Linked DNA regions of Homo sapiens. The protein of the gene in region 1 interacts with the protein of each later gene in a biochemical or structural test. Each region holds a gene or a part of one and is shown on either strand. Other genes may lie near its edges. The genes, in order: DHX16 and RIGI.

The links.
Region 2: the proteins of DHX16 (region 1) and RIGI form a complex in vitro, tested with the Homo sapiens proteins (one study listed by BioGRID).

The regions. Positions count from the first base shown.
Region 1 is NC_000006.12:30,655,695-30,659,516, reverse strand, and holds part of DHX16 (pre-mRNA-splicing factor ATP-dependent RNA helicase DHX16), read left to right. Parts: coding exon 1-45; intron 46-2,424; coding exon 2,425-2,565; intron 2,566-2,757; coding exon 2,758-2,920; intron 2,921-3,007; coding exon 3,008-3,126; intron 3,127-3,251; coding exon 3,252-3,319; intron 3,320-3,822. UniProt on the Homo sapiens protein: Required for pre-mRNA splicing as a component of the spliceosome. Contributes to pre-mRNA splicing after spliceosome formation and prior to the first transesterification reaction.
Region 2 is NC_000009.12:32,515,993-32,519,814, forward strand, and holds part of RIGI (antiviral innate immune response receptor RIG-I), read right to left. Parts: intron 1-3,822.

The DNA.
Region 1 (3,822 bases):
ATGCAGGCCCGTATCTTCCAGCCCACACCACCTGGGGCACGAAAGGTCAGTTGGAGAAACCCACACTCTTCACCCCTATGCTTCCCACAACTAGTAGTGAAAAAGCTGTGTGCCTGCCCCATGCAAGGTGAGTCCTGCGCACTGCTGCACACAGCTGAGGAGCAGCCAGTCCCTTGTTCCTGGGACTGAAGAGAGGAGAAATATGGTGTGAACCAAGAGAGAGCCAAATATGTGATCTGGAAAGTATGCACAGTAGATTCAGTGGAGAAGGGAAGTCCTTGATGTGCTAAGAGGTGGGATTTGATATGGACCTTTAAGAGAAATGTCTGAGGTCAGGTGCGGTGGCTCACGCCTGTAATCCCAGGACTTTCGGAGGCTGAGGTGGGCGGATCACTTGAGGTCAGTAGTTCGAAACCAGGCTGCCTAACGTGGTGAAACCCTGCCTCCACTGAAAATACAAAAATCAGCAGGGCATGGTGGCGTGCGCCTATAATCCCACCTGTTTAGGAGGCTGAGTCATGAGAATCGCTTGAACCCAGGAGGAGGAGGTTGCAGTGAGCTGAGATTGTGCCACTGCACTCCAGCCTGGGTGACAATGCGAGACTCCATCTCAAAAAAGAAAAATGGCTGAGAAGTCATCAGAGGAAGGCCCAAGGTATGTTTGAGGTCAGAGTGTGAGCTAGTAGGCTTAGTGGGAGGTTCATGTGGTGAAGGAGTAGGAGACAAGGCTAAAAACAATTTGGGGCTAAGATTAGGGAGGGCCTTTGATGACAGGAAAGTTTGGACTTTATTTATTTTTCTTTTTTGAGACAGAGTCTCGCTCTGTTGCCCAGGCTGGAGTGCAGTGGCAAGATCTCGGCTCACTGCAGCCTCCACCTCCCAGGCTCAAGTGATTCTTGTGCCTCAGCTTCCCAAGTAGCTGGGATTACAGGTGTGTACCACCACCCCAAGCTAATTTTTTTTTTTTTTTTTTTGAGATGGAGTCTCACTCTGTCGCCCAGGCTGGAGTGCAGTGGCACCAACTCTGCTCACTGCAACCTCTGCCTCACAGGTTCAAGCGATTCTCCTGTCTCAGCCCCCCAGTAGCTGGGATTACAGGTGCCCTCCACCACGCCTGGCCAATTTTTTGTATTTTTAGTAGAGATGAGGTTTCGCTATTTTGGCCAGGTTGGTCTCAAACTCCTGACCTCAGGTGATCTGCCCACCTTGGCCTCCCAAAGTGCTGGGATTATAGGCGTGAGCCACCATGCCTGGCCAACACCCAGCTAATTTTTAGTAGAGATGGGGTTTCGCCATGTTGGCCAGGCTGGTCTTGAACTCCTGGACTCAAGTGATCCGCCTGCCTTGGCCTCTCAAAGTGCTGGGTTACAGGCATGAGCCACTGTGCTTGGCGAAGTTTGGACTTTAGACAGCTGAGTAGCAGTCAAAGGATTTTGAGCAGAGATATAACTTTCATTCAACAAATATTTAATGAGTTCCTTCTGTGTGTCAGGTACACAGGGGTTGATGATACAGTGATGAACAAAACAAAGTCCTTAGCCTAACAAACTTGCACTTGTGGTCTATCGGGGAAGCAGTGGATGCATAAATACATATTGTCAATTTGTGGCCAGTGCTATGAAGAGATACAAGGCAGCATAGTAGGATGGAACTTGACTCTGTGGGGTGGGAGTGAGGACTGGCATGAAGGTATTTTCCTTGGGGTGTAGGGAGGGCCTCTTCAGTAAGGGGAAAGTGGAATAGAGACCCAAACCAGGTGAGGGAGGGAGCCAGGCTGATATCTGGGAGAAGAGTATGCCAGACAGAGGGAATAGCTGATGCAAATGATCCAGTGAGGAGTGCACTTACTTGGGCAGAGCAAAGCAGTGTGTGGGAGGAGTGAGGGAGGTGGTGGAGTGCTAGCAGATGAGGTCAGAAAGGCAGCTGGGGTAGGTGATCCAGGCTTTTAAGGGGCTTGGATTGAATTCTAGAGTAGGATAGGAAGCCACTGAAGGATGGGGAGTGATGTGACAGGTTTGTATTTTAAAAGGACCATCCTGGATGCCATGTGACAGAGGCTAGGAGCAGAAGCAGGGATACACGTTAGGAGGCTCTTACAGGAAGTGTTGTGTGAAGACGAAAGCGGTGATGGGGAGGATCGGGCAGGAACTTGAACACCCCCATTTCCCATCTCTGAAAAAAAAAAAAAACCCTAAATCCTCTTCTCCATTTCCTTTCCTCCTATGGCCCTGCTGACTCCCAGCCCCCACTTCCCTGTCCCCTGTCTTCTGGCCTTGTCCCCTGCTCCTGACCTTGGATACTACTAATTCCCTCAGCTCCTGCCCCTTACTGCAACTGCTTCACTACTCCTAACTTTCCAAGATTACTTTTTCTGGGTAACTAGGTAGGTGGGGTCACTGGGTGACCCCATATCCTATCACTCAGGTGGTTGTGGCAACGAACATTGCTGAGACATCACTCACCATTGAGGGCATCATTTATGTGCTGGATCCAGGGTTCTGTAAGCAGAAGAGCTACAACCCCCGCACAGGCATGGAATCGCTCACTGTCACACCCTGCAGCAAGGTCAGCCTGGGGATGCATGGGAGTGGGGGAGGTGGAGTTGGCCCACAGAGAAGGTCCAACTCAGAAGCAGGGTGGGGGCTTCCTAGGGAACCGGGATGAGCAGTTTGCATCCTTCCAGATTTCTTGCATAAATACTGCCTTTTTCTTTTCCCTGACCAAATTGTCAGCCAGCCTGTTCCCCTTTCTTTCCAGGCCTCAGCCAATCAGCGAGCTGGCAGGGCAGGTCGGGTGGCTGCAGGGAAGTGCTTCCGCCTGTATACCGCCTGGGCCTATCAGCACGAGCTTGAGGAAACCACAGTGCCTGAGATCCAGAGGACCAGCTTGGGCAATGTCGTGTTGCTGCTCAAGAGCTTAGGTGATTGGGCTACCTGAGAGAGGAGGGAGGGGCTGGAGTCACTGTCCTTTGAAGGGACTCTGTTCCATCCATCACACCTCTTTCTAGGGATCCATGACCTAATGCACTTTGATTTCCTGGACCCTCCACCATATGAGACACTGCTGCTGGCTTTGGAGCAGCTGTATGCTCTGGGAGCCCTCAACCACCTTGGGGAGCTCACCACGGTGAGTCGGGGGACAGCATGGGTGGAGGCAGGATGATAGGGGTCAGGATGGCTCCAGGGACCCCTGTAGTAGTAGCGGGAAACCTGAGGGAGGACTGGGCTCAACTCTCTCTCTCTTCTCCTTAGTCTGGTCGAAAGATGGCAGAGCTGCCGGTGGACCCCATGCTGTCCAAAATGATCTTAGCCTCTGAGAAGTAAGCCCTCGCCTCCACCTGGGCCCCCAGCACACAAACAGGCCAGGCCTCCTCTGTCTCCAGGGTCCCCTTTGTCTGTCTTTTTCTGTTCATCATACTATCCCTTAACACATAATAAAGTATTAGATAACTCTGATTGCCCCCTTTTGAGGCCCACAAGGGTAAGACACTTGATCCTATCCTTGATTCCACTGCGCCCGGCCCCTTGAGGAACTTACTTGTTCCTAAGGTTTCCAACTAGAACATTTAGATGTAGCTGTGGAGGGATGACCTTTAAATGCCATTCCTCTGCTGTCAGAGATCTTTTCCAAATGCACATAGTGAATGCACACTTTCTGCAGAAGCCTCAGAATTCCCCGGTGTTTCCTGCTCCTGCCTCCATGGATGTCCCTCCTTTGTGACTGTGTTTCATCTATGGCCCCTACTTCCTTGACCCCCAAGCTGCTGCCAGAATCTATCTGCTGGCTGCTTTGTAGCCATTATGCCAACCAGCCTTCCCCACA
Region 2 (3,822 bases), on another chromosome or scaffold:
TTGAAACTGACCACAGTCCCACAGACATTTATTCCAGAAAAACAGAAATTGACCCTTCTGGTCTTTAAACTTGAAGCTTACACTTGTTTTATCTGAGATCCTTTCTCAGGCAAAAGACCACCAGGCCTCTCAAAAAGTATCAAACTGAAATTCACCAGATTATCACATCCAGACAATGAGGCCAGGCCCCTCATTCATCATGATTGCTTCCTGAGTTCCTGTTTTCCCACACAGTTACATTTCTTCCCTGCTATATAAACCCCTAATTTTAGTGGGTCAGGGAGATGGAGTTGAGACTAATCTCTCATCTTCTTGGCTACAGCTCCCAATTAAAGGCTTCTTCCCTGGCAATACTTGTTGTCTCCCTGTTTGGCTTTCTGTGTGGCTACCAGGAGGACCTAGGCCAAACCCCTGGTGCTTCAGTAACAGATTTTTGTGGCTGGGTTGCTGTGGTCTAGGAGTCTCAGAAGCCCTCCTAAGCAACTGCCCACCCAATTTTGGCTGGAAGTGAGTTTTGGTCTCTCTGGCCCTGCTGCTGCCAGCCCCAGCTGAGTTCCTGATTGCTAGGAAGAACAGCCTTTGAAATGTGACACTGGCATCTGGATAAGTGAGTGTCCTTTCTTGGCCCAGACAGCAAGATCTGCTCAATTTGAAAATTTTAAAAGGAGCTTCCATTTGCAGGTTAAACCAGCCCAACTGACTAAGAAAGGGAAGCACCCTGACTCTCAGTATGATACTCTAGAGAGCGTGTTTGTAATTTCTGTGTTTGTGTCTGGCCAAGTTAGTGTCTTTTTTGGGTACCAGACAGTGGGATCGGCTTCTCTCAATTTGGAAAATTCCTAAGAAATTTCTGTTTGCAGGTTAATAAAGCCCGATTGAGAGAGAAAAGCACCTCGACTGTTTCAGTTTGGACACTGTTCGGGCTTGTCTATTGCTTCAGCAGTCGGATTGTGTTTTGTTGATTGTATGTGTCAATATAGTAATGGGAAATTAGAATTCAACAAACAAATATTCTTTTGTACTACGTTTGCCCCAATATTCTTTGGAATCTGGAGTTGGCTGTTGAATGGGAAAGCCAGGTGGAGTCCCATGTATTCTGGCTTTTATGCCGCTGTTTTAAGCAGGGTTGGGCCTGGTGAGTAGTTTCCACATGACGTTCTTCTGTAGTGCTGTTTGGCCCCAGGTTTCTTTGGAATCTAGCTTCTAAAAATCAAACTGCCATGGAAACTGCTTTACCCAAAATTCTGGTTCACAGCCTTCATTGGATTACCGATTGGAGCAAACAAATTTTAGCCATGTGGACTTGGTTGTAGATTCGTGAGTTTGTATTGCTATCTCATGGCTAGAGTTCCAAGGTAAAAGCTGTTGGATCTTTGTGTGTGTATACATGTTTAGATGTGTTTATCTAGATGTACATTAACTATGTTATACACTATACCTACCAAATTGGCTTATAAATAAGAGTGCTCATAAATTAAGTCCAAAGTGTTTTTCAAGTTCACATGACTTCAGTAAATCTTTAATAAACAAGCTGTCTTTAAAATTATTGGTAAAATAAAAATAGAAATGTCTTCAGAATTGTCAGCATACATTTTTGTCTCGGCTTTATATTTGTCTCAGCTAGATAATTTGAGGTATCAGAGTTTGGCAGCAGGTTATAAAGCTATAAACCCAGTGAATATTTGTGTGAATTCTTTATAAGACTAATTTAATGCTGTTAGTTTAATGAAAACAGCTGAATCTTCTGAGTTATTGATCAAAATGCCCACGTATTAATTTTAAGGTTATTTAGGTGAACACCTGACATTCACAGGTTATAAAATGGTTAAGAAGGAAATGATGCAGAAATAATCTAGATAAACTGCTAAAAATAAATAAAATGTAAATGGTCAAATGCTGTAAATGAACTTTTGGCATAATCGGAAATATAATCATTGGATGTTTGAGTCATTTCCAATTAAGAAAAGGTTATGATGTGGGGAACATGTTTCTAAAAATTGTGGAATGGTTCTCATCTATAAAATACTAATATCTGCTAGGCAGCTCAAGATTTCTTGCTTCCTAGGTTTTTACTGAAATTTAAGGTTGTTACTAAGGATAAGAATTCTAGTTCATATGTAATTCTATATATAAAATGTGCAAAAGACAATGTGTTTTTATTCAGAAAAAAATTTTATCTAACTCAGAAGTTATCTAAAGTTTATTAATAATTATGGACTTGAAAGGTTACTTATGAAACAAGGTAGAAAAGAACAAGTAGACGAGAGAGATGTGGAGAAAGTTATGAGTATAAAGATGTATTTTTGGTAAGGAAGGTTATAAAGAAAATAATTTTGTATGACAAAGCATCTTATAATGGTATTTTTTTTGTCCTAAAGTAAAATGACTGTTTAAAAAAAAAAAAAGAAGAAGAAAAAGAACGAAAATCCAGGACAAATCAGAAAGTCTAAGCATATCATAGATGGTGTGTGTAAGTCATGTAGTTTCTTTCCTATTTCTTTGTGTGTCTACCTTTATGTACAGACAGAGAAAATACAAAGTATAAAAGGCTTAAATAATATTCTCTTAAAACCAGATAGAATATTGGAGAAATCTGGCTAATTAACACTGCTCATAGTTAAAGCTCTTAGTCTTGATGAAAGTAAAATAAGAAATATTGTAAAGAAACACATTGGCAGTTTGGCAATCCTTTCTTAATATAGTTAACCATGAAGCCAGATAAAAGCCAGATATAGCAACAACCAAATTTCACCTACATGCTTGCATTGCTTCACACTGTATTTGCTCTTCTGCATAGATATACTATCATTACAGTATAATACTTACTGGTCGGCCTCCTCCAGAGTAGCTGGGATTATAGTTGTGTGCCATCATGCCTGGCCAATTTTTGTATTTTTAGTAGAGATGGGGTTTTACCATGTTGGCCAGGCTGGTCTCAAACTCCTGGCCTCAAGTGATTCACCCATCTTGGCCTCCCAAAGTGCTGAGATTACAGGCCTGAGCCACCACGCCCAGCCTAAAGTGAATTTCTTAATTGCACAAAATATATAGTGGTATTGGTGAACTTAAAGACATTAAATTGTGCATCAGGAACAAAATATTCATCATGTGTTTTTTTGGCTCTGGGTAACACTATAGCCTCCAAGTTAAACTGAGTAGAAAATTTTCAGGTTGGTTTCCTGTTTGTTTTTTCTTTTAATTTGCATTTATTTGCTGTTTCTTCTTCTTTAGGTTTTACTTATATATACATATTAATAAAACCATTGATGGCTTTTAGTTTCTAATGTAAGGAAGGCTTTTATTTGGTTCCATGAATAATCATTTTGTTTCCTATGCATTTCCAGTATCTCATCATTTGCTCTACTTATCCAAAGTTCCTAAGCTACCTTTTTCAAGCTTCCAAAAATTGTTGGTGGACACCAGCCTTTAAAATTTGTTTGGTTTTGCTTACCTCTAATGAACTAGAGAGCTATAAGAACTTTAAGATTCCTGGCAAAAAATAATAAAAGGTTTATTCTTCTAAGTTCTGAACAGAAATAGTACATTATTATTGGTTATTTGGAAAAGTAGGTGAGAGAAATGTTTAAGTGGTGTTTATTTCCAAGGTAATTCAATTCAATAAACAATAGCGGTTTCAGATCTTTTCCTTTAATGAGGCAAAACTGCTATATGGGTACAAAGTCTTAATATTCAGAAAAAAATTGGCTTTGTCTTTAAGGAAATTATATTGATTGGGCTTTCTCTCAAACTAATTTAGTTGTGTTTACTATTATTAAGATTAAATAACATTTACTTGGATTAAGTCATAAAAAAAATTATAAG